Homo sapiens: one gene and its partners. The protein of the gene in region 3 purifies or fractionates together with the protein of the main gene of each other region. This does not show direct contact. Each region holds a gene or a part of one and is shown on either strand. Other genes may lie near its edges. The genes, in order: PLCD1, TRIM29, RBM24, SERPINB5, SERPINB2, EVPL and MACROH2A1.

The links.
Region 1: the proteins of RBM24 (region 3) and PLCD1 purify together in Homo sapiens (affinity purification with mass spectrometry; 3 studies listed by BioGRID and IntAct, with this or other methods). This does not show direct contact.
Region 2: the proteins of RBM24 (region 3) and TRIM29 purify together in Homo sapiens (affinity purification with mass spectrometry; 3 studies listed by BioGRID and IntAct, with this or other methods). This does not show direct contact.
Region 4: the proteins of RBM24 (region 3) and SERPINB5 purify together in Homo sapiens (affinity purification with mass spectrometry; 3 studies listed by BioGRID and IntAct, with this or other methods). This does not show direct contact.
Region 5: the proteins of RBM24 (region 3) and SERPINB2 purify together in Homo sapiens (affinity purification with mass spectrometry; 3 studies listed by BioGRID and IntAct, with this or other methods). This does not show direct contact.
Region 6: the proteins of RBM24 (region 3) and EVPL purify together in Homo sapiens (affinity purification with mass spectrometry; 3 studies listed by BioGRID and IntAct, with this or other methods). This does not show direct contact.
Region 7: the proteins of RBM24 (region 3) and MACROH2A1 purify together in Homo sapiens (affinity purification with mass spectrometry; 2 studies listed by BioGRID and IntAct, with this or other methods). This does not show direct contact.

What each region holds. Positions count from the first base shown.
Region 1 is NC_000003.12:38,026,843-38,030,795, forward strand, and holds the start of PLCD1 (1-phosphatidylinositol 4,5-bisphosphate phosphodiesterase delta-1), read right to left. Parts: upstream 2,801-3,953; 5' UTR 2,698-2,800; coding exon 2,664-2,697; intron 1-2,663. UniProt on the Homo sapiens protein: The production of the second messenger molecules diacylglycerol (DAG) and inositol 1,4,5-trisphosphate (IP3) is mediated by activated phosphatidylinositol-specific phospholipase C enzymes. Essential for trophoblast and placental development.
Region 2 is NC_000011.10:120,124,614-120,128,113, reverse strand, and holds part of TRIM29 (tripartite motif-containing protein 29), read left to right. Parts: intron 1-544; coding exon 545-778; intron 779-2,224; coding exon 2,225-2,423; intron 2,424-3,500.
Region 3 is NC_000006.12:17,291,361-17,294,371, forward strand, and holds the end of RBM24 (RNA-binding protein 24), read left to right. Parts: intron 1-395; coding exon 396-759; coding exon of another isoform or gene 760-772; 3' UTR 773-2,511; downstream 2,512-3,011. UniProt on the Homo sapiens protein: Multifunctional RNA-binding protein involved in the regulation of pre-mRNA splicing, mRNA stability and mRNA translation important for cell fate decision and differentiation. Plays a major role in pre-mRNA alternative splicing regulation.
Region 4 is NC_000018.10:63,483,458-63,486,957, reverse strand, and holds part of SERPINB5 (serpin B5), read right to left. Parts: intron 2,537-3,500; 5' UTR 2,530-2,536; coding exon 2,362-2,529; intron 13-2,361; coding exon 1-12. UniProt on the Homo sapiens protein: Tumor suppressor. It blocks the growth, invasion, and metastatic properties of mammary tumors.
Region 5 is NC_000018.10:63,890,705-63,894,204, reverse strand, and holds part of SERPINB2 (plasminogen activator inhibitor 2), read right to left. Parts: exon of another isoform or gene 3,305-3,500; intron 2,770-3,304; 5' UTR 2,761-2,769; coding exon 2,593-2,760; intron 1,585-2,592; exon of another isoform or gene 1,486-1,584; intron 1-1,485. UniProt on the Homo sapiens protein: Inhibits urokinase-type plasminogen activator. The monocyte derived PAI-2 is distinct from the endothelial cell-derived PAI-1.
Region 6 is NC_000017.11:76,020,807-76,024,306, forward strand, and holds part of EVPL (envoplakin), read right to left. Parts: intron 3,315-3,500; coding exon 3,215-3,314; intron 2,849-3,214; coding exon 2,694-2,848; intron 2,613-2,693; coding exon 2,486-2,612; intron 1,733-2,485; coding exon 1,607-1,732; intron 1,422-1,606; coding exon 1,383-1,421; intron 1,223-1,382; coding exon 1,061-1,222; intron 976-1,060; coding exon 868-975; intron 758-867; coding exon 662-757; intron 1-661. UniProt on the Homo sapiens protein: Component of the cornified envelope of keratinocytes. May link the cornified envelope to desmosomes and intermediate filaments.
Region 7 is NC_000005.10:135,389,232-135,392,731, forward strand, and holds part of MACROH2A1 (core histone macro-H2A.1), read right to left. Parts: intron 1-3,500. UniProt on the Homo sapiens protein: Variant histone H2A which replaces conventional H2A in a subset of nucleosomes where it represses transcription. Nucleosomes wrap and compact DNA into chromatin, limiting DNA accessibility to the cellular machineries which require DNA as a template.

The DNA of each region.
Region 1 (3,953 bases), on a different chromosome or scaffold from region 3:
ATTCTCAGACCCACAGTAAGTAGAACCAAAGCTAGGACTGGAGCCCAGGTCTACTGGGGCCAAGATGAGGCCCCTCTATTTTCTGTTTTTACAAACGGCACCTCTTGCAGGGGTGGGGGCAAAAGGGATTGGGTGTAGGAAAAGTTAGTGTGTATGTGGGGGGTGTTCAGTGAGGGGAGGGCCCTGGGAGGTAATGTCCTTTGGGGCACATCGGGGGACCTGCTAGAGAAGCCAGTCCAGGCATAGCCAGAATAAAGAGTGGAAGAAGTAAGGTGAAGGAAGGAGGATGGATGCTGTCGCATCAGTCTGAGGGCTTCAGAGGCACTAGAAAGAGCTGGCTGGCTCGCTCTTGAATCTAGTTCTGGCCCTATTTTCCATGACTAGGAACTACCTTATGATGCCCCCATCATCTCCCAAAGAACTACAGATGGCAACTCATAGGGCATAGAAATTTGGGGAGGGGGCCTCCTGCAGGAACATAGTACTCACTGGGTACCAGGCACTGTTCTAACTGCTGTGTAGATATTATCTCATTCAATCTTCGTAGCAACCCTATGAGGTAGATGGTATTATCCCCCATTTTACAGATGAGGAAACTGACACACAGGGAAGTCAAGGGATTCATCTGAGATGAGAAAGCCAAGACTTGAACTCAGGTACTTTGCTTTCAGAATCTATGCCAGTAAACTACATTACTTCTGCATGCATCTGGGGTGAGGACAGAAGGGACATGTCACATCTAGGTGAGCCGCATAGCTCCCCAGGCCAACAGAAGGAGTCCCTCTGGGCTCCTTCCAGAGAGTGTGGAGCCCTAGGCCAGAGAGTGTGGTCCTGCAGCACATCCAGTGCTGGGGCACCCACACTGTGAAACGGATGCAGACTCTCCAATGCAAGTGTAGACAACCTGGAACAGCACAGGGCACAGTGATCACCCCCTCCCACCAACAATTCTCCTTGACAGGTTCTTATTTCCCCATCTGGTTTGCAGTGTGGACAGAAGGCAGTTGAGGTAATTTTGGGTGATGAGCTAGAAGTGGCAGGGCCTTCAGGGAAAACAGCTTGGGGTCACAGTGTTCATGTCAACCCTTCAGGAAAGGCTGGACTGAGTTAGGCATTTGGGAGGCTGGTCTCAAATGGGGTGGGCCAGGGCAGCCAAGCCTATGCCACAGGACTGGGAGGTCCTGACTGAGCCTCCATGTGTCTTCCTCCATGGAAAAGATATCAAGGCTGCCTCAGGAGAGAAACTGGACAAAGGCACAGACACTGAGGATGAAGCCTGTTCCAACAGGAGCCAAGGAATGACGCTGTGTCAGAGAGAAAGCAGAGATGTCCACTGTGTCCTCTCAGCTGCCCAGCCTCCCTTCTTGCTAGTCTGGCAGGCGCACGAAAGACACCTCTGGCCTGAAGAAAGAAGAGGGAGCACTGGAAGGGGCAGGGACTCCATGACTCATCTAGACAAGGTGGCTTTAAGGAGCCTAGGCTATTGGTGTAAAAGCAACAGCTCTGGGCACAGAGCAAGGTCTCTCTGGGCCAGGAGGACCAGGTCTGTGCCAACTGCAGAACACGAGATAGACTGGAGGCTGGCTGATGGGAACATCTCTAAGTCCCTCTAAATTCCAGGGGGACTCTAGTGGAAGGCTAGAGGACTCTGCCCTTCTCTTTCCCATCTATTATGTCCATGAACAGTTTAGATGGATGGGTGGTGGCCACTAAAGCCTCCAACCCCAAGGGTACTAAAAAAGAGAGGGATATACAGTAAAGCAGTGATTGGTATGAAAGGAGCAGGGTTTGCTGAGATGGCAAGTGACCTGGGAGGGCAGGAGGGCAAGCCCCCACCAAGAGTGAGTGAGTGCCTGTCCTGGAGCAAAGAGGCGCCCAAAGTTACCCTCCCCAACCTCCCGCCTCCCAGAAGGCCTCCAGATCTGCCTTCGGGAGCCCAGGCTCCCCTCGCTGCTGGAGGGACAGCGAAAGGGCAAAGAGCTGGCTCATATTGGAGGAAACAAAGCTCCGCTGGACAAAGGATGGAGCAGGCAGCTCCGGCTGAGACCTGGCCCTGTCCCCCGAGGAGGGTCGCAGATGAGGGGATCGTGCTGCTTCTTTCAGCCTGAGCATCGCTGACTATTCTGCGCTGGGCAGTTAAGGCTGCACGGCCCGACCACGGTTAACCTTGCACACCTCCTCTCCCCACCCGCTTAGCCCCTGCTCCGCCACACCCGCGCGGCCTGACGCGGTCCAGGCACGCCCAGGCTTTGGGGAGCCTCTGGGGCGGCCCGGATGGGGCAAGGAGAATTTTGGTCGTTCTTGGATGCTGTTTCCTTCCTTCGCCGCCCCTCCGTGCGAGCGGGATCGTGGAGCCCAGACTTTCATGACCAGGACAAGGGGGTCCGCGAGGCGGAGGGAAGTCTTTAGACCCGTACCGCCCGCCCACCCACCCCCCGGGCTAGATCTCGGACAAGCCTGGAAACGCCCAGGGTCGTGCCCGGCAGTCCCACCCAGGGAGCCGCGGGCTGAGATTTTCCCAGTCCGGAGAAGGGGCAGAGAGGCGGGCCCGGGGTGGTGTGGAGGCGGCCGAAGGAGCTGGGGGCTCCCTGTCCAGGGCCCGGAACAGCTTTCCAGGGGTCCACCCCTGCAGGGTCTCCCGCTCGCGCGGGCCAGGCACTCACCGTGCAGGGTCAGGAAGTCCCGGCCCGAGTCCATGCCCGACGGGCGGCGCGGCGGGAGGGGCACCGCGGGACTCACTTGAGTAGCGACAGCACCGGCGGCCTGGGGTCCGAGCGGAGTGCGGTGCAGGGACCTGAATGGACCGCGGTGGGAGGAGGCCGGGGGTGGTCCCGGGACACCGCCCCGCCCCCGCTGCCCTGCGCCCCCGCCCCCTGAGCCCGCCAACCCTCGTCTCTCCCCGCCCCCTTCTGGGGACGCGAGAGGGAGGGCAGAGCTGGGGGCCCGGAGGACTGGCCAACCCTGGCCCGGGCCAGCGGGCGCGCCCCGACCAGAAATAGCCAGATTCCTCCAGCTTCCTCCGCCGCCGCCACCCACGGGCCGCGGGCCCTGTCATTACCGCGGGCGGCCGGGCCCCACGCCCTGTTGTGGGCGCCTCGCTGGGGTCGGGGTGATGCTGGAAAGAATCCGGCGTCATCCCGGGGAAGGGATCGTGTAAGGTCCGACGCCCAGCCGGGCTGCTGCGCTAGGGAGACGCGGCGTCCAGGCTTCCAGCCGCAGCTCCCAGCGTTCGCATTCCCTTCTGCGAAATGGGTGCACGGACACGATTAGAAGGTCTTCAGAGAGCAATACCTGGACCTTGTCGGGAGGAGGGTCCCCTTCCCTCTCGCTGGGAGGTTTCTAACCCCAAGAGTGCCTTTGGTGGAGTGTTGGGGGTGTGGGAGGGGGAAGCAAGCAGGTGCACGGATTTCACTTTTGAGCCACTCATATCCCAAAACCCCAGCGATCCATGCAGCCGAGGGGGAGGATCCCCAGGGTCCCTTCTTCAGGTGGCCTCCCAAGGGGCTGTCTGGGCAAGGTCCCTATGCAGACCCACCCCCTAACTCTTGGGACCCAGAAAACCCCCTTTATAGGTTGCCCAGAGACCCCTCCCACCACAGACCCTGGGAGGGTCCCTAGATCCTGTTGCCCACCACCCCTTTGGAGAGTCCCTTGGGAAAACTGGGCTCTTGGTGTCAGAGAGCCCCCAGAGGGCCTCCCAGGAAGCCACCCAGGCCTCCTGGGCTGATAAGGCCAATGTGAGAGTCAGGCAAAGCTAGTTGGACCAGCTCTGCGGGGAGGGGGCTGGGCTCACCCCAATCCCTCCTCTTCTGGGCCCTAGGTGGCCTTGAATAAGGGATGTGAAACAGCTGAAGGACAGTCTTCTGGTTCTGGGGGTTAAAAGTGGATCAGGACTTCTGGGCTTTGGAGAGCCCCCTGCTCTGCATGCCCCCTCTCCACAGACGGGGCTTCAC
Region 2 (3,500 bases), on a different chromosome or scaffold from region 3:
TTCTGCCCACAAGACTCCCCAGCCACCAAATACACACCATTTCTTCTCTACTTATGCCATTTTGGCTAAATGTATGTCTGCCATGGTTTGGGTAATTGCAAACCACAATCTGAAATCACTGCCTGCTTGACCCTGACTACATACACAGCCAGCATACACATTCATTTTCTGAATACACATTTCTACATATACATTCATTTTCTGAATAATGTTTGGTTCTGGTTAGGGTTTCAGGGAGCATATTGTGACCCATGGGAGAACTTTGGGGCCCACAGGGAATGATGGCTCATATCAACCCACCAAGAGGAAGGAGCCACAGGTAGATAAGAAGCGTGGACTGTGAACAAACCTGGCTATCTCTGTCAGTAGGTGGCATCCCTCAGTGATGCCTTTGAATGAGATTCTTGGCCAAATAGGCTTGCCAGGTTGGGGCAGTGGGAATGCCCTGATCCTGTGCTGGAAACCTAAAGACATACCCGACTAGGGTGATTTCTTTCCCTAACTAAAGCCCTGCCTAATCTCTTCCCTGACTCTGGACCTCCAGAGCTTCACCACCAATGAGAAGGCCATCCTGGAGCAGAACTTCCGGGACCTGGTGCGGGACCTGGAGAAGCAAAAGGAGGAAGTGAGGGCTGCGCTGGAGCAGCGGGAGCAGGATGCTGTGGACCAAGTGAAGGTGATCATGGATGCTCTGGATGAGAGAGCCAAGGTGCTGCATGAGGACAAGCAGACCCGGGAGCAGCTGCATAGCATCAGCGACTCTGTGTTGTTTCTGCAGGTAACAAGCCACTCCTCTGTCACTCAAGCCCTCGATTTCACAATCCACTTTTTGAGACCCCCCTCCAACATCCATCCATCCACCTATCCACTTATCCACCTATTCGTCTATCTGTTCATCCACCATCCAGCCATCCAACCATCCATCCATTCATCCATCTATCCAAGCGCCATTCTCTCTGTTTAATTTTTTAAATCCAATCCATTTCTTTACCTACTCTCAAGATGGCAAACAAATATCACCTTTTACCAACTTCAATTGATATGTGCTAGCAGTGCTCTGGGCTCAGTAGGAAAGAGTTGTGAGATCAGTGAATCGGGTAGAGGGGGAGTGGTGTAGGAGTGCTGCATATTTGTTATCTTGGATCTAGTCCGTTTGTCTATTCATCCATTCATCCTTCCATCTGCTAGAGTGTTTTAGATACTACTGCATGCCCAGTACTCTATTAGGTGCTGTGGCGAATAGAGAAGTACAAGACATGGTTTCTGCCTCCAAGCAACTGCAATCCAGCTGGGAAGATAAGACATGTACAATTAAAGAACAATATAGAAAAGTGTGTAATTAAATGATAAAGCATATGGCTCAGGAGATAAGTGCCTGTAGAAGCTCAGAGAAGGGCAGGTGGGCTGGAGGAAGCTAAGACAGCTTTGTGGAGGAGGTGGAGTTTGAACTGGGTCTTGGAGGCCGGTTAGGATTTGAGAGGGAGGACAGAGTCTTCGGTGAGGAGTAAGGGAAATGAGAAGTGCAAAGGCAGCACTGAGCATGGCGTGTAAAAGTTGAAATACCACTGTGGGCTGGGCATGGTGGCTCACGCCTGTAATCCCAGCACTTTGGGAGGCCAAGGTAGGTGGATCACCTGAGATCAGGAGTTCAAGACCAGCCTGGCCAACATGATGAAACCCCATCTCTACTAAAAATACAAAAAAAAATTAGCTAGGCATGGTGTCACACACCTGTAATCCCAGCTACTTGAGAGGCTGAGGCAGGAGAATTGCTTGAACCCAAAAGACGGAGGTTGCAGTGAGCTGAGATTCAGCCTGGGTAACAGAGTGAGACTCGCCTCAAAAAAAAAAAAAAGAAAGAAAGAAATACCACCATGGCTGACCCCAAATTCTATAGTAATTCCTTGCATTTCTTTAGTGTGTTCACTCCCAGTCTTTGCAGTTTGTGTCCCTCTCATAAACCCTATGAGGTAAACAGATGCACCCACTTTAGAGGTGGGAGTCGTGGAGTCACACATCTGAACGCTAGTGCCATCAGGGATGTTAGCATCCAGTGGCTTTTAGTTGAACCTTTTCATGTTACAGAAGAAACAAACATCCAGTGAGGAAGAGTGGGGCTTGCAGCGCTGAGACCCCCAGCTGCACTGTGAGAGCCCCTGGCAGAGAAGCGTCCTCATAGCTCATGAAGACCCAGGCAGTTAATGGTTCTTTCCTTTCTTGGTAGGAATTTGGTGCATTGATGAGCAATTACTCTCTCCCCCCACCCCTGCCCACCTATCATGTCCTGCTGGAGGGGGAGGGCCTGGGACAGTCACTAGGCAACTTCAAGGACGACCTGCTCAATGTATGCATGCGCCACGTTGAGAAGATGTGCAAGGCGGACCTGAGCCGTAACTTCATTGAGAGGAACCACATGGAGAACGGTAGGTCCCCTCTCGTGGCTGGGCCCCAAGGCCATAGACCTTTCTCTCCCAAATCAATTCCTGCTGCCTGACATGGGCTGGCCTCCAGTGAGCTTCTTCTCATTGTTCCCACCCACCCACCCACCCTTCCTCAGGCCGTTTGGACTAGGATACAGGGATTCTAACCCTCCTCCTCCTTTGAACTTGCTGCCAAAGTTATGCAACTATAGGAAGAGACCTCCAGAGCAGGGACATCCTGGGCACTGGCTCCACAAATGCCTCCTCTCTGTGGGTTGTCCATCAAACTCAGAGACTGGTTTCGTTCAGATCTACATCTAATTGCCGGGCCCAGCCCAGCAGCTGTGTGGATGCTGCCACTAGTATGGGCCAGATTCCAAACTGGTGGCTTTGCAGACTCTAGCAGACGTGACCTAGAACTGCAGCCATGCCTGGAGGGAGGACTTGCCTGTCATCATGGCCATGCTGAGCAGTGCTGAGCCCAGAGGCTGGACTTGGCCTGTTGAGCTGGGCTGGGGACGGTGGGACACAGTGTCTCTGTGACTCACCAGCTCCCTTGAAGTCAGCTCTTCTTCTGAGTCATGCTGTCCCCTCAGAGGTCAACTGAATCATCTCACAGAAAACCTCTGAACCTGAGAAACAACATCGTCAAGTCCTTTTCCACCCAGTCCCTTTAGGGCCTGAAGCCTGGGCACTTTCCCCAAGGCCCCACCCGGTGTCCCAGGCGTTGCACGGGGCCTTGAGAGTACAGCCTTGTTAATGACTGCTAGACGTGAATACCCCAAAGGAAAGGACCCCTGATTGCTCTCCAGACACAGCATATGATTCTTTGGGGGAGGAGAAGGGGGTGAGGGGGATAAAAGTGTGCAGAAGGGTTGGGGTTCAGGAGGCCATTTGTGCACCTTGGCGATGGCAATATCACATGGTGTCCCTGTGAAATGTGGGGGACATTCAATCACACACAAGGACAGATAAGCCATTTCAGCAAGACAATCATTTGGCTTCAAACGGCACTCAGATCCCGAAATCCTCCTTCTAATGACAATAGTGATGATGCTAATGGTGATGGTGACAGCTGAC
Region 3 (3,011 bases):
TACTTAATTAAACATTCTTATTTTATGAACTCATTACAAAATTTTCCAAAGTCTTCATCAATTGAGCACTTGTTAAACCTCTCTTACGTGTGTAGCCCTCATGAATCTTGATTTATTTTCCAAACTCTTGATAAACTGTACTTAGCAGCTCCAAATAATCATACATGACAATTCTAGCAGGGAGGGTGTCATCATATTTTTGGGGTCCAGTTCTTCTGGGGGCACTCTATGACTTTGGCTACTGCCTGAGTATTCTCAATGGACCACTAGAAAGTAGATATTGTGGCAACCCTATGCTCATAATAACCACTAAATTTGAGTTTGTTTTATCTTTGAACAACATGCTACAGTTAGGAGGTGACTACCGCCTGACTTTGTTTTCCATTTCTCAACAGGATACCTGCCCACTATGTCTATCCGCAGGCTTTTGTGCAGCCGGGAGTGGTCATTCCACACGTCCAGCCGACAGCAGCTGCCGCCTCCACCACCCCTTACATTGATTACACTGGAGCTGCATACGCACAATACTCAGCAGCTGCTGCTGCTGCCGCCGCCGCTGCTGCCTATGACCAGTACCCCTATGCAGCCTCTCCAGCTGCTGCAGGATATGTTACTGCTGGGGGCTATGGCTACGCAGTCCAGCAGCCAATCACCGCAGCGGCACCTGGGACAGCTGCCGCCGCCGCTGCAGCAGCTGCTGCCGCTGCAGCATTTGGCCAGTACCAGCCTCAGCAGCTGCAGACAGACCGAATGCAATAGACCAGCCATCTGATCAAAGTTGAATTGTTTTCTCTTTCCCTCCCAATTTTCCAATTTTTAGTAGCTAATAAGAGAGTTAACATTGACTTAACAGCTTTAAAAAAAAAAACAGCCATGCTATTGTGAAGCAGAGTTATTATTTTTTTTATACTCCAGGTAGTGTTCTAGATGAGAAAGAGGTAAGAATGAGGGGAATGGGCACAATTTTGGAAATCAATCCCAAAGAGCCTGAGTAAATGAAAGGCCACTACGAAATGACGCCAGGAGTAACAACGGAACTTCACTTTTGTAACGGGATTTTTATTTTTGCTCTTTTTATAGTATCAGGGAAGCAAACTGCCTTTTACAAGTTAGAAAATGCTGTTTGAATCTAGTTGAACCAGGGAATACAGAGCGAGCAATATGTAGCTTGAATTACATTTAAAAGCAGATTTTTTACAAACAAAATGGCGAAAGCACTGATTGTCATTTTTAGCAGTCACTTAAGGCCTATAGAACTTTTTTCAAGTCGGAAGGTCCTGTTCTTACTATCTCAAAAATGGGCATCGAACAATCAATCTAGGAGCGTGGCAGTGGGTAAAATGGTGGACAGGCACCAAAGCTATTTTCTCATCTGTCCTGTGGATGAGTGGAACTGTGGAACAAGTGATGTGGAATTAATGGGTGCAACAGCTGTACAGACAATCAATAACACACACAGTTCTGGAAAGAACACATCACTTGTGCTTGTTTGATGAGCTTGTCACATTCTAATCCCTCTCCCCATCCTGTTTCAATTTTGGGAAACTTGTATCTGCTGGTGTCAGCAATTCTGATTCTGAAATAGGATCAGGCTTTTACTACAACAGCCTTCTCTTTCTATTTATTGTGTCGACTCGTGGCTTATGAATAAAGGCAGGCAAAGTTTGCAGAACTGTCTTAAGGACATTTATTTTTTTTCCCTTTTTAAGTAATTTTACACTTTAGTATCTATTTCAGAGTCATATTTAAAACTATTTATTAGTGACTACAGTACATGAGACAACAAGGTTACTGAGATTACAATTCTTCAAAGGTTAATGATAATGTGGTTTATACTGTGCCTTAATAGTAATGCTATTTAAGATATTTATTTTTAAGTTTTACTATGCTGCACTCTAAAGAAAGGAACTTTAGATGTGACACTGTAAAATTATGTATTCATCTCATGGCATAAATTATTTAGTAAGTCTAGATGTAGCGTATTAAATATTAACCTATTCAACTAAAGATGTTGACTTGGATTTATTTAAATTCATATGTGCACTGTATAAGAGAGTACTCTTACATTAACACATTTTAGTTTAGTTTTTAGATTTTTTTTTAAACGATATATTGCTAGTTTCATGCTTCCTCCTCTGATTTTGCCTGTGTAGATTTCATTTATTGGTAATTCATTAGTTTAACACTATTATGTAGTTTTTAAATGCTGCTTTACATTTTTCTTCTGAAACTGCAATACTTGCAATTTTTATTCTTAAACTAAATTGAATACTATTTTACACTGTATTGGATTTTTATACTTGAACAATTTCATACAAGGGAAGACAGGTTAGCATTTTTATGGACTTTCTCCATTATCACTGGATTTACTTTAAGTATTCCCATACTAGACAGTGTTATGTAATGTAGACATGACTCTCCTGTGCAAATTATTTATTCGTTGTGTATATTGCTTTATAACATTTCAGATCTTCTAATCTATTCACTTGTATTAAATATAATTTTTAAAAACTTCTGTTGCATTGGCTGTTTCTAATTCTGTAGTAAAGGTCAATGATTTCTCTTTTGAACTTGAATCAATAGCCATGATTGATACGTAACATTTTCAGTGAGCATAATACTCTCTTGGATGTCCTGGTTTTGTGCCTTTAAAGTAAGTTTCACTAACTGAATATCTACCTTATACTTAGCAAATGATATAGGTCATCCCCTGTCCCACCAGGGGAGCCCTAAAGGACTTCGTATCACTGAAAACTGGTTAGCTGAAAGATGGCTTGGAAGGCGTGGGCCAGTAGTAGAGAGGACTAGTCAGAAGTGGGACCAGCCCAGTGGTGCTCGGGTCAGCTAAACTCAGGTTTGAGCTGGACTCCCCACTTTTCAGCAATGTTAGTGAAGCCAATTGCTCTTCGTAATTCACCTTTTTTTTTTTTTTTTTTTTTGAGACAGAGTCTTGCTCTGTCACCCAGTCTGGAGTGCAGTGGCACGACCTCGGCTCACTGCAAGCTCCGCCT
Region 4 (3,500 bases), on a different chromosome or scaffold from region 3:
AAAATGAAGAACCTGTTAAGAGAAAAATCCGTTACCCAAAAAGCATTGCCTCTGAGTAGTGCTGTACTGAAGTGGACACGTGATAATGACCAACGTCCTTGGGCATACAGACTCCTCCTGCCTAGTTCCCGTAAAGTAAGGCTCCTCAACCTCAGCACTATTGACATTCAGGCTGGATGAGTCTTTGTGGGGCTGTCCTGGGCACTGCAGGATGCTTAGCAGCATCGCTGACCTACTAGATGCCAGTGGCATCCTCCTCCTATTTGTGAGAACCCAGAATGTCTCCAGACATTGCCAGATTATCCCAGAGTGGGAAGGGGAGGACAAATTGTCCCCACTGAGAAACACTACCATAAAGGTACTCTTCCAAATCAACCATCGAGAACATTTGTCCTTTCTTCAAAGTGATGCCCTTAATACTCACACAGAAGGATTTCCAAACTTGGAGAACGATGAAGCTGGGTTATAATTTCTATCCAATTCAAAGACCAGAGAGAGAGATTGATACAAGAGACACCATCATCAGGCAGGAATCAGATTTCAGGACAAGTGCCTCTAGCCAGAGTCTGTCTAGTCCCTCTGGGTGCTTTAGCAAATGCCAGGTAAATAGATGTGTCATTTCTGATGGGCAGCTACAATAAATGGTGGGCTGCCCTGGGCTGGCTAGAGTCAGATGGCCCTGCCTGTGAATCCCAGCCTTCACCACCTCTTCTCCAACTCTTCAGAGAATCTTCTCCAACTCTTCAGAGCCTCCTTTCCTCTCCGTAAAATGGGCTGAAAATACCTGCTTTCCTGAGTTGTTAATGAGGATTACTTATATGTAAAACACGTAAAATATTATATGGATTCAAACTGTTAATTATTCTTGTAATAATATTGTAAGCCATTTAAAACCAGGATACTATCATTTGGAGGGCTTAAATCATTGTATTTTTTTCCTTTTTTTTTTTTATTGTTCCAACCAATAGTCCAGCATCTTTTCTGCCTTGCAACACCACAACATGTAATGTCAGCATAAGATGACACCCTCCTCGCTCCATAACTCATAATGGCCATGCTGTGATTCCACAACCCAGATAACGAACGCTGCCAAACCGGCACATTGTCCCAATGAATTACATAGCCTCAGCATTGCAGGGTCAAATGCTGGTCCCAGACAGTGCATAACTCTCATGCCTAAAGATGGATGAAGGAGACCAGAAAATTTAAGAGCCCAGGTAACTACTGCTGGGGAACCAGTTGCATATACTGAGAAGAGCTTGAGGAATTACTGAGGAACAGACCCACTACCCGGAAGTTCTCTTTCGCTGGCCTTTCTCTAATGGTAGATGAGAAATGAGGAATGGGAGATTGGGTAGGGATAGTGGAGTTGCGCAGTTCAGAGATGTGGCTTGATGTCAAGATACATCTCCTCTTCACAGGAGTGAAGCTGCTTCAAGTCCCAAGTGTAAATTCTTCATCCTTACCTAAATAACTCTTATGGGCCATACTTTCTGGACACATATGAATACAAGAAGGTGTTGCCTTTTTAAATGCTTATGAGCTAATAGAAAAGAAATTCTATTGAACCTAGAATGATTAGCATAAGAGTAATAATGAAATAGAATTAGAAGAACATTCACCTATTATGTAAAAGTACATGAGGACTTAAAACGGAACAATCAGGAAAATTGTCTCATTTGAAGGTCTAAGAACTTTACAAAGCTAGATAATCAACCATAGCCAGAAAGAAACCCTAAAACGATACAGATGCTGCTTGATTTATGATGAGGTTACATCTCAATAAAACCATTGTAAATTGAAAATATTATAAGTCAGAATGAAAAAGCTGTGATTACCCAGCAGATCTCCAGGTTCTCCATCACAGCCTGGTGCCTGTCCCAGATGTGAGTTGCATTACCTACAAGCGAGCTTTCACATTTAAAAATAAATTAAGATGCCTGTAATCCCAGCATTTTGGGAGGCCGAGGCAGGCGGATCACCTGAAGTCAGGAGTTCGAGACCAGCCTGGCCACATGGTGAAACCCTGTCTCTACTAAAAATACAAAAATTTGCCTGGCGTTGTGGCACGCGCCTGTCATCCCAGCTACTCGGCAGGCTGAGGCACAACAATCGCTTGAACCTGGAGGCTGCAGTGAGCCAACATCGCACCACTGCACTCCAGCATGGGTGACAGAGTGGGACCCTGTCTCACAAAAAAAAAAAAAAAAAAAAAAGATTAAGAGAGTCCTGGAATGGCACAGTTCTGAATCTTGACCAATTCTGGCCACAAAGTCTACATTCCTTTTTTCCGTAGGCACTGCCTATGGGTTCTAATAACTGTATTCCCACTTAAAGTAGAAACAAGGTTTTGGGGCTTACCTGTCCAATTTCATTTGCAGTGTCACCTTTAGCACCCACTTGAGCAAGTGACAGAGAGGTGGAGAGACAGATTGGAGAGAAGAGGACATTGCCCAGTGGCTCCTTTTCACATAGTTGTTTGAACAGATCAACGGCAAAAGCCGAATTTGCTAGTTGCAGGGCATCCATTGCGGGCCTGGAAGCAAGGACAAGGGAGCAGTTAGTTTCTAAAGCATCTTTAACGTCTTCTCAACTGCATTCTGCCAACACTATAAGAATTCTATTTAAACAAAGTAATTGATCTCAGAAGAAACAAGGAACTTTCTGTAAATTCAAAAGTAAGATCAGTTGTGAAGAAACTTCCAGGCAAATGTCTGAAGGCATGTGAGGTCCTCTGTGTGTCCAGCTCTGCCTAGACTCTGCAGTCTTGGGCCTGCTCAGCCACAGTGGCCATTGTCGGGAGCCCAGTGGTCACATCTCTTCTCCAGCATATGTCAGAAAAGTTGACAGCACTAATCAACATCAGTTGGTTTTATTTATCACATATTGTTTCCATTAGGATTTCAGTTAAACTACAAAGTTAAAACTTTTATAAAACAAAAACAGTCGAATTGCAGCAGTTTTGCATTGTTCAGTTTAATATTTAGTAAGTGTAATGGGTTGAATTGTGTCCCCCAAAAAGATATGTTAAGTCCTAATCCCCATTACCTGTGAATGTGACCTTACGTGGAAACAGGGTATGTCCTATTTCTTAACTAATATATAATTAGTTAAGATGAAGTTACATTGGAGTTAGGTGAGCCCTAATCCGATATGACTGGTGTCCTTAAAGGAATAAGAGGAGAGACACAGAAACAGACATACACAGAGGGAAGATGTGAAGACACAAATGTCTTCACCTGTGTGAAGGGCATGCCGTATGGCAATGGAGGCAGAGATTGGAGGGATGCTTCCACAAGCCAAAGAATGCTAAGAACTGCTGGCAACACCAGAAACCAAGAGAAAGTCATGGAACATTCTCCCCTGGAGCCTTTTGAGACAGCATGACCCTGCCGACATCGTCATTTCAAAGTACTGGCCTCCAAGCCTGTGGGTGAATAAAGCTTCTGTTGCTTTAAGCTGCCTGGTTTGTGGTGCTTTGTGAGAAGTGCTAGAAAACC
Region 5 (3,500 bases), on a different chromosome or scaffold from region 3:
GACCCTTAAATCAGGGTTCTTTGGGCTAGCACTAAAGCCTTCCTGAATCAGTGTTAAAGTCACTCAGGGAGATGTCCCTGCAAAAGTGGGACTGTGAGCTGCCCCTAGTCCACACAAAGGCCACAGAGAAAATAGTGAGGCAGTTTGGCCTGGATGGGTCTGTTGCCTCACTGTAAGGAAAAGAGCTTATATCCTAATTCCCACAGACCTATGCCATCCAGGAGCTTATATCTTTTATGTATTCTTTTCTTTCACTACAAATGTACCACTTCTAACAGCTACAGCAATTCTCAACTGTGTGGCCTCTTCTTGCCCTGATTCCCTCATCTGTAAAATGAGTACGGTAATCATCGTACCTACCTCATAATATTTTGTCTTATGTGAGTAAATTTATAAGAAGTTCTTAGAAAGATGCCTGGCTAAGGCACTAATAAGTATTGGTTGTTATTATAGCAACTGCTACTAAGTGCCTTACATAGTACCTCTAATCTTCACAACTTTCTTGCATGCTACACATTTTTATTCCCATTTTGTAGATGAGAAAACTGAGATGCAAATGGTTTCAATGTCCTCACACACATGTAGTAAGGAACAAAGCCATGACTCAAACACAGATACGTCTGTCCCCAAAGTCTGTGCTGCTTTCTCCAGCCAATAAATGTCTTTTTCTTTTTATCTGGGAAGCAATCATATTAACATTTGAATTTCAAAATCTACACATGCAACAGAGTTGTCAAAAGACGATATATATAGAGTCTCAAAAAAAAAAAGACTATATAGAATCCTCGCATAGTCCCAAAGGCTTAAAGCACTTCTTAGACACAGAAAAGCTGTCTTGTGTCCAGAGCAATCAGTTTATTTTCCTCTAGTACCAAAATCAAGATTTTTACTTTAACAACCCAGAGCACTTCATTTAGCATTTGCTCCCAAAATATATTGCTACTGATTCCTTTACATTTAAAAAACAAAAAAACCTAGGCCGGGTGCACTGGCTCACGCCTATAATCCCAGCACTTTGGGAGGCCGAGGCAGGTGGATCACAAGGTCAGGAGTTTGAGACCAGCCTGGCCAAAATGGTGAAACCCCATCTCTACTAATACAAAAATTAGATGGGCATCGTGGCAGGCGCCTGTAATCCCAGCTACTCGGGAGGCTGAGGCAGGAGAATGGCTTGAACCTGGGAGTTGGAGGTTGTAGTGAGCCAAGATCGCACCACTGCACTCCAGCCTGGGTGATAGGGCGAGACTCCATCTCAAAAAAAAGAAAGGAAAAAAGAAAAAAACCTAAGACCTGATGTTTCTAAAGCTTTTGTGCCAATTTACTATCTTTATTCTTTCAAGGCAAAAAATAAAAAATAATGGGGAAAGAATATTGCAAAAGACTACTTGTGTCAGGGAGTTGAGCAATTGAGTTTTGTTGTAAGTCTCAATGTTTAAACTGTCACAAACACAGAGATTGATTCACCCATCCCTTGTCTTCCTGCAGCAATATTGGCCAATGCTCTCTCTGTGAAACTTCAAACTTCAAATGAGGCCCACCTTACATGGGTCACCATGTGCATGGAAAGAATGTATTTACACTCAGGTACATTCTCGTGGGAAACTGGAAACCAGCCGGCGGCATCTTGGTGTGACTGCATGCACAATGCATGCGTGTCCTTAAAGCATTTAATGTTAATGTTTGTATGTGTGAATGCAAAGGAATTTTAATGATATCATGGCCACATCGAGGTCACTAACCTTGGAAGTAACATGATCACAAGAATTTTGTATGTGCTGAGTGACTATTACAGTAACGATTGCAGTGTATAATTGAAGTAGTCCGGCATAATTTCAAGGGCCCAGACTCCGTGGAAAGAGTTTCCTGACTGAGTCCACGTCCATTCACCAAGGAAGGCAGGCAGTGGCCTTGCAGAAATCCCTCACAATGATGTTGTGCATCCCATCTACCTTGGTTTTCAGGGCTGGCCATAATAATGCCAGGTCTCATTCTGCTACCGTGACCTCACAGGCATGATCTTCTGCAGCTACAACACTATCCATGCATCCTGTGGGTATAGTGAGCACCACCCTGGTATGTTTTTTTTTTTTTCCCTTTGTGATACTCTCTTAACATTATTAGAAGGAATTCTTCATAGGAATAGGGAACAAACACCACAGTGGCACAGTAATGGGAAGGAGCCCAGGCTAGGAGTTAGGAGACAGTGGGGGCTTCTCTGACACCACCAGGGCTCTCATCTGTAAAATGATATCTGTCTTAAAACTGAATGAGATAATGGGTACAAAACACTAACTTTGAAAAATAAGAATATTATATTATTAAAATATAAGATGTGGTCACTCATAACTGTGTCCAGCCTTGCAGGCTATTCAACTCCCATATGCCTTCAACAGCTACAGTTGAGGGATTCGGGGGCTTGGCTGTCTTATAGATTTGAATCTAAGGAATTTGTGTTGTAAGGATCAGTGCTTCATTACCTGTGATGATTGCTGACCTCCTGAGTTAAAATGTCTTTAGCATAAAACAAGAGCAGTTCTCCAATTCCATTCAGGAACTACTCGGCCCAAATGTGGAGCTTCAGCTCAAACTCACCTTGGCCATCTGGTCTTCGGTGCTGCCCCTGGAGCCCATGTAGACCATGGCCATGGTGGACGAGATGCTCCATGGGGAGAGGAAGAGGTTCTGGGTGGGGCTTGCTTTTGCCAGATGCTTGAATAAATTGAGGGCAAAGAGTGTGTTTGCCACACAAAGATCCTCCATTGTTTCAATCTAGAAGCAAAGAGAGGAAGAAAAAAACAGCTCTGAAACATAAGGTAACATTTTGGGTGAGGTCAGCAACAGTAGGACAGGCTGCATTCTGTGTAGGGACAGATTCCCTGTCTGTTCTTCCTCATGGAACAACATGAGGCAGGTCAGGGACAGCTTCATGGACATACCACCTGTGCAGCCGTAAAAAGCCCCTTGTTTAGCCAAATGCCCTCCTATCGCCATCTTGAAATTCTTGATAATTTTAAACAAAAGGCCCACATTTTCATTGTGCACCAGACGCTGTAAATTACATAGCCAGTCCTGAGATACATGAAGTGTTTTGTATGATGAGCAGCGACACTTTGTGGCATTCCATAGAATAACAATGACAATATATAGGGACAGGAGTAGGAATTGAAGCCAGATAGGCAGACCCTAGGATCATGCTCTCAACTTCTATGCTGCCCCCACAAGCACAACGCACACATCCACACCACACACACTGCCACACAGGAAGATATACACATATTGAAATATATGCCACCTGCATACATACCTTGTTGCATCTGGTAAGACGGTCAATCTTCTTTCTGCTTTCCTGCTTCTAAAGTGACTTTGACTCATTGTTTGAAGGTTTGGAGTTTCACCCAGCCCCTATCCCAGAACCCCTTCCCTATATGCACCACACATACCACAGCCTTACTAAAAAAGACTTCCTATACTGGGGTGTTCATTACTGGGAGGACTAGAAG
Region 6 (3,500 bases), on a different chromosome or scaffold from region 3:
TCGGCTTCCCAAAGTGCTGGAATTACAGATGTGAGCCACCACACCTGGCCCCCACGAAATTTTAATACCACAGATATGCTGTATACAGCTTAGGTGCTGTATGTGGATCTGGACTTCATGCATAAAAAGAGTTAAGATATTTTTCTGCCAGTAAGAACCAATTTTCACCCCCCTGGGAACCGCTTCACCCTGTTGAGAATGTGCCCATGCCTTTCTTTCCCTCTGGGACCGAGTGGCAACCACACAGCTCTATTTTATTTTATTTTTGAGGTGGAGTCTCTCTCTGTCACCCAGGCTGGAGTGCAGTGGACCAATCTCGGCCCACTGCAACCTCCGCCTCCTGGGTTCAAGCGATTCTCCTGCCTCAGCCTCCTGAGTAGCTCGGATTACAGGCGCGTGCCACCACATCTGGCTAATTTTGGTATTTTTAGTAGAGACAGGGTTTCACCATGTTGGCCAGGCTGATCTCGAACTCCTGACCTCAAGTGATCCACCAGCCTCGGCCTCCCAAAGTGCTGGGATTACAGGTGTGAGCCACCGCGCCCTGCCAGCTCTGTCTAGTTGGGAGGTGCAGTGCCTCTCCTGTGGGCAGGGGTGCTGTGCTCCCGCCCCTGCCGCCCCTGCCGCCCCTGCCGCCCCTGCCGCCTGCCCGAGGGCTCACCCGGCGGTAGTCCTCCACGTGCTGCAGCTGGGTCTCCTGGCAGATACACAGGTTCAGGAAGTTCTGCCACTCCATCTTCAGGGCCTCCTGGTGGGCCTGGGTACGGCAGCATGGAGCCCTCGGACCACGCCCCCCCCACGTCCGCCCCACCTCCCCCCTTCCCCGCCCACCACGTCCCTTCTCACTCTCGCCCTGCCCCAGCGCACCTGGATGGGCCCCACCGCGGGGTGCCGCAGCTCCACCATGCGCTCGCCGTCGTCCTCCAGCTGGTTCACGCTCTGCTCCTGGCTCAGCAGCTCGTGCTGCTTGAAGTGCTGGGGGCGAGTCGGGTGGGGAGCGGCGGTGAGGACCCGGATGGCCCTGGCCGCCCCCACCTGGCCCCGACCTCTGCCAGCCGACCTCGTACTCCCGCCGCACGCCCGCAGGGTCGGCCATGAGGTCGCTCCAGTCCTGCTGCAGGATGCGGCGCTGCTGCTCAGCCAGGGCGCTCAGCTGCCGCGTGCAGCCCTGGAGGTGCGTGTACAGGCTGCCCAGGCTCTGCCCGCGCCACGACGCCGCCTTCTGTGCTCAGGACCCGCCGCCAGCAGCAGGGTGGGGAGACAGAAAGTGGGGGGCAAAAGGCGCCATTGGGCCGCGCTCAGGAACACTGGCCCCGGGCAGGGTCCGGGCGGCCACCCAGGCCCACCCGCAGCCTCCCTGCCCGACCCTCCCTCCTGCTCACCAGTAGGTCTCGGTATTGGCTCCGGATGGTGGCTGCATCCTGCCTCGACCAAGGGGAGAAACAAGCCCGTGAGAGGTGGGGTGCAGGGAGACGGCCCCCTAAGATCTGGGCCAGCCATACCCCACCCACCCCTATCCCCAGGGCCCAGCCGATCTAGCTCCGGCTCTGACTGGAGAAACGGGCTGGGGCTGGCCCCGGATGTGACATCCTCCAGGCTCACCTACCGGCCCCACGAGGCTCCGCAGCTGCTGCCCATAGGCGTCGATCTCCTTCTGCAGGATGTTGTGCTCGGCGATCTGTTGCTCCAGCTCCGCCATGCCCGGCCCGTACTGGCCTGCGCAGACCTGCTTCTGCAGGAGAGCCGGCGGCTCAGTCCCCAAAGGACCGCGGTGGGGAGCCAGAGAACCCCACACGCCTCCCACCCGGAGAAGTGGACTTGGTCATTTGGGCAGAGCGTGGACGAGCCTGGGAGCAGCCCGGGTGCATGCCCTGCAGCTCCCCCAGGGGCGAGGCCATTCTGCAGTGGCCCCTGAGTCCCACTGGTTCCCAGACGCTGGGCTCAGCCTCTAAGAAGTCTCCAGCTCCATCCTGCCTTGTCTGTGACCCAGCCTCAGTGCTTCCTGCCTGGACACCACCAGCCAAGCTCTAGGGCCCTCAGAATGCCCTGCTCCAGCCGGGCCCTTCCCCACTGTCCCTCTATTGTCATGATGACACCCCTTCTGTGTGGCATCAAAGCACAACTCCTCAACCAGGGATCAGAATGTCCCATGACCTGGCTCTGCCCACCTGCCCAGAAATCCCCACTTCCCGTCGAAGCCCAGGCTTCCTCCTGGCAGGAACCTTTGCTCCTTCTTTCTGGAATTGTCCTCTCCTCACTACTTCACCCTGGCCCAACTGAGCCCTCTCACCCCTCTGAGGTCTCTTCATGTACCTCCTCCTGCAGGAAGTCTTCCCTGACTGCACTGTCTACTCTGCTGTCTCTCTGCCCAGACCCCTGAGCCACCCCTACACCCTGACTATTCAAGCCTGCAGTCAGGCCCTGGATTAAATGCAGTTCCGTATCGCCCTCTGATCACACTGGGGTGTGACTTTGAGTTCCTGACCTGTTTCTGCTCCAGCACGCGTGCCCAGTCGACCCTGGGTCCCACGTCGGGGGGCAGCACCATCTTCTCGTACAGGGCACGGTACTCCGCACACTCCTGGGTCACCCGCTCGTGCAGCTGCTTGATGCTGTCAAGAAGGTGGCCGGCAGGTCAGGGCTGGACCTGGGTCTTCCCCAGGGACCCCCAGCCCTGCCGCAGCTCCACTCACTCCTTCTCAATCTCCTCAGCCTGCGGGTGCTTGAGCCGCCGGGCCTTGTCCACGTCCAGGAAGAGGTCCTTGAGCAGCACCTCAGCCTCCTTCAGGCTGCGGCCCGTCTCCTGCTGGTGCTGCAGGGCCTGGCTCTGCTCACTGTTCAGCCGGTCCTGTGGGCAGGAGATGGGCAGACTGGCCAGGGCCCAGAGCCCCCACACCCCTGCTGCCCATCACTGTGGGCCTGAGCCCCAACTTTGGGACCCCAGCTATGCTAGCCAACCTTGAGGCCCACGCCAGGCACAGGGTCAGGACCAGGGCGTCCGTGGGGCAGGTGACAAGGACACAGGGGAGCCCAGAAAAGAAGGAAGCTGAGCCCTCTCTCCCACCGTGTGTTAGGGGATGGGCGGTGCAGGACAAAGGTCATCTGTCCCATCTTCACCATCACCAAGGGGCACTCAGGGAGTGCCAGGCCTGATGATGGGCCTCCCATGCCACCCAGCCTGTCCACGCCCTGCCAACTGCTGCCGGGGCCTCACCTGCTGCAGCCTCTTCTGCGTCTCCAGGATGTCCCGCTCCACCTGGTCGGCGTTGGCTTGCATGCGGGAGATGAGAAGGGCCAGCTCCTGGGTGGCAGCCCTAGTGTGTGGAGGGGACAGCGGGTAGCTCGGTGGAAGAGGCCCCTCTGTGCCCCATCCAGGTGGCATCCCCTGCCCTCCCTCCACCCCATCCTGCCCCCACAGCCTAGCTCACTGCCCTGACTTTGGGGTCTCTCTCTGCAGAAGGCTCTGTGAGCTAGTCCTGGTTGGGGGTGTTAGCACTGCC
Region 7 (3,500 bases), on a different chromosome or scaffold from region 3:
CCACTGTCTGTAGCTGCAGGGCCCTCCGGGTCCAGGTGATGCACTCCGCTGGAGCAGTTTGATCCCTGAAAAGAAAGGCTTGGCTTTGCACAATTTATACCATGACATCAATTTTACTTAAGTGCCTTGCCATTATGCCACATGATGAAAAAGGAAATGGGATTTCTTGGCCACATTCTATACACTTGTTTAATAATTGCATTTTCATACACTTGAGACTGGGGCTGATAAACTTACCAAAGGCTTCATAAAAGAAAAACAGCTATGACACCCTCCCCTAAAAAGATGATGTAAAGGCAGATACCTAGATTCTCTGATGAAAGCAGTGTCTCTATTTTAGATTCTTTATCTGTGAGAGGCAAGAACAGCTTACAGGAGTCAGTACAGTGTATAGTCAGGTTGCAGTAAGAGGCCCTCTGAGCACTTCTAGTCCACCAGATGGGCCAATCTTTAGAGAAGAGAGAGAGAGGTGTTTTTTCCTTCCTTGCTCCCAATCCCCATCCAGTCACCCAGTCCAGAGGAAAACCCTCCTCTACACCTCTTGTGGGGCTCTTTCTCTCCACCTCCAGTGATGGGATCCTGGTCATCACTATTTTAATCAAGTGGTCACAAATGTCTCCTGAAAAGGTCTCCCTACCAGAGCCCCCTCTCCTCTAATCCACCCTCTACCCCATGGGTGGGGCAATCTGGGTACACACCCACCTGAACATGCCCCGGCCCTGGCCTGAAAGCTTTCTGTGGCTGCCACAATTCTCATGATAGAACCAGGACTCTTGGCCTGCCATGTAATGCCCTAGAAATCTAGGCCTGGCACACATGTCCAGCTTTGCCTTGGGCCACCTGTGGTCTAAACTAGCAAACAGGGAGCCACACAAGGTTCCCCCCAAATACCCTTCCACTTCTTTTCTCCCTGCCTGGGCAGTAGCTGTTCCCTTTGGCTGGGACCTCCATTATCTCTCACACTTGCCTCTGCCTTCTGCCAGCCCTCCCAAATGTTGAGATCTGGCTGTTTCATCCTCAGGGCCCCATGTGCTGCACACCACAGCATTGATGCACGTGTGCCCATTCTCCCATCAGACTGCAGGTGGGTGGAGGGGTGCCCCTAACTGTATTCCTACTGTAGCACCATCCAAGGTCTCGAATGTTTACTTGGAGCATCCTGTTCATTTATGCATTCACTTCAGGTATTATGCTGGGCAGATGTGGTCCCTGTGGAACTGGTGGGGAAAAAGACAATAAATAACCCCCTAGTCATTTAAAAGATAAACGTAATGCATGCTTCAAAGGGCCAGTGCAGGGTGCTGGGAGAGGGGATATGAGGGGCCTTGGCCTGTTCTGGGGCCCCCTAAAGTCTTCCCTATGAACATGTTTGCTCACTGAACCAACTGGGCAGGTCTCCCATGTACTGATAAACTGACGTCACACTCCATGGTGTTTGGGGCCTTCCAGCACCAGCAGTCAATGCTGTGACCACTGGAGGCCACAGGGATAGGAGTCCCTGTTACTCTGATGCTCAACCTATACTAGGGACATTGTCAGGACATGCCACGGTCCACACTTAACACCTCTCTAATCCCAGGTGCATCTCAAATCATCTGGGATGAGCCACAGAGATGGCTGTGAGGACAGAAAACAGAATTCTGGGCACTCTGGGGCTACTGTGTAGACAGGCCCAACAGAGGTAAGATGGCAGAGGCCCTGGCTCTGGAGTGATGTTAGAAGAGTAAAGGCCTCTGTCATGAGCGCCCTGTCAAGGAGCACCCAGTCTTAACTGCTCACTGAGGGCTAGAGAGACCCAGAAGGGTCTGGGTTTTTCCAAAACAATTAGTTGGATCCCTTCCTTGCTGCAATGAACTCCATTTTAAAACATTCCTTGCAAAAAGGTGCCTGTGCTCACTCTGAGCAGGAAATGATATGTGTATATGTATGTGTGCCTGTGTTTTCAGGCAAGGCTGTCATTGGGTTTCCTAGCAGTCTTTTGCTTTACTACAAATGTGTTTCACAGACCAACAACCTGATGCCTTTGGACTGAGCTTTTAAATCGGAATGTCTCCCCCTTTCAGCAGGGGAGGCCTGTGGTCAGTGATGATTAACAGCAGCTCAGCCCTTTTCCTACTAGAGCACAGACTTCAGCTTTGTTTCCCAGCTGACCTGCTGGGCATGTCTGGGGCTGCCTATGTGGGAACTGGACAGTGGTCTCCTCCAGAAAGGATCCGTTAGCACTCAGAGACCTGGCAGGTCCTAGACACGCTGACTCCTTAAAAGTGGTGCTCCTTGTCTTTCCCTCCTCTGACTCTAGCTGAGTCTTTACATCAACATGCCAGTGACTCCCAGGTCTCTATGCCAGTGCAACACCTGGCCGCTGAGCCTCAGAGCTCTGTTCTGACTGCTGATGGCAAGGGCCCACTTACAAGTCCCATGGGTGCCTTGAACTCCTCTGGGTCTCTCAGCCTCATCAGTGGCAATGTCATGCACCAAACTAGCCAAACAGCAGTGAACCTGGCCCAGACTTCTCTGTCCACCCCACAGCACCCAAGCATTAGCCAAGCTCTGCTGAACCGCCTGCAGAACCTCTCAGGCCTCTTCTCATCACCCTCCCTGCGTTGGTTCAGCCTCTTTACTTCTGACCTATTCTCAACCGCACCAGTCTTCATCCATGGACACCAGAAGCAGCTCTGCCTACTCTGATGATTCCCTGTCAGCCTGAGCTTCTGAGCTAGCCACAAACAGCATACTTCAGCTACTTTTGGTGGCACTGCTTCCTGTCACCCCAGCCCTGGCTCACATGCCTCAGGCCACCCCTGACTTCTTGAGCCTGTCACACTGTGTTAAGGATGTCTCTGAACACGCAGTTCTCCTGCCTGGAATGCCCTTTGTCCTCTTGTCAACTTGCTGAACTGACACTCACAGCCTCCCTCTGCCATGGAGGCTTTGTGGACATGACCACAGCCTGGAATTGCTCACTGCTCCATGTTCCCATAGTATATATATCCCAGCACATGCCTCTCCAACTTGACTGAACTGCAAGCCATTCGATGTGAAGCACTGTAGTCAACTCATCCCAAGAAAGGTCTGAAATATCACAGCTCCTCCAGTGCCACCCTGCTGGCAGAAGAACATCTTCACTTCTCATTCTGAGTCAGGCTCCTGTCCAATAAAGCGGCCTCAAGTCTGTCTCCCCACCAATGGGGTTGTCTTGCAGAGATTCTGTACTTTATCCCTCCCCATGTTCTTCCTGCACTTCTAACTATAGTTCCCCAAGCTGCAGCCACAGCTATGAAAGAATTCTGACTAAGCCATGAAGCCTTATGACATCCAGCAATGTGTGGTGGTTTTCAAAACACCCTTTTGAAAACCAACTCATAGTTGTGCAGTCTCCAGATAAACCCATGAATGTGCCAGGTCCATCCTGCTCTTCAGAGGTTTATGCAGGTGTGGGTAGCTCCAGTCAGGCACCCATGACAAGGGGGAGAGTGACTGTGAGGCCAATGGCAATTAAG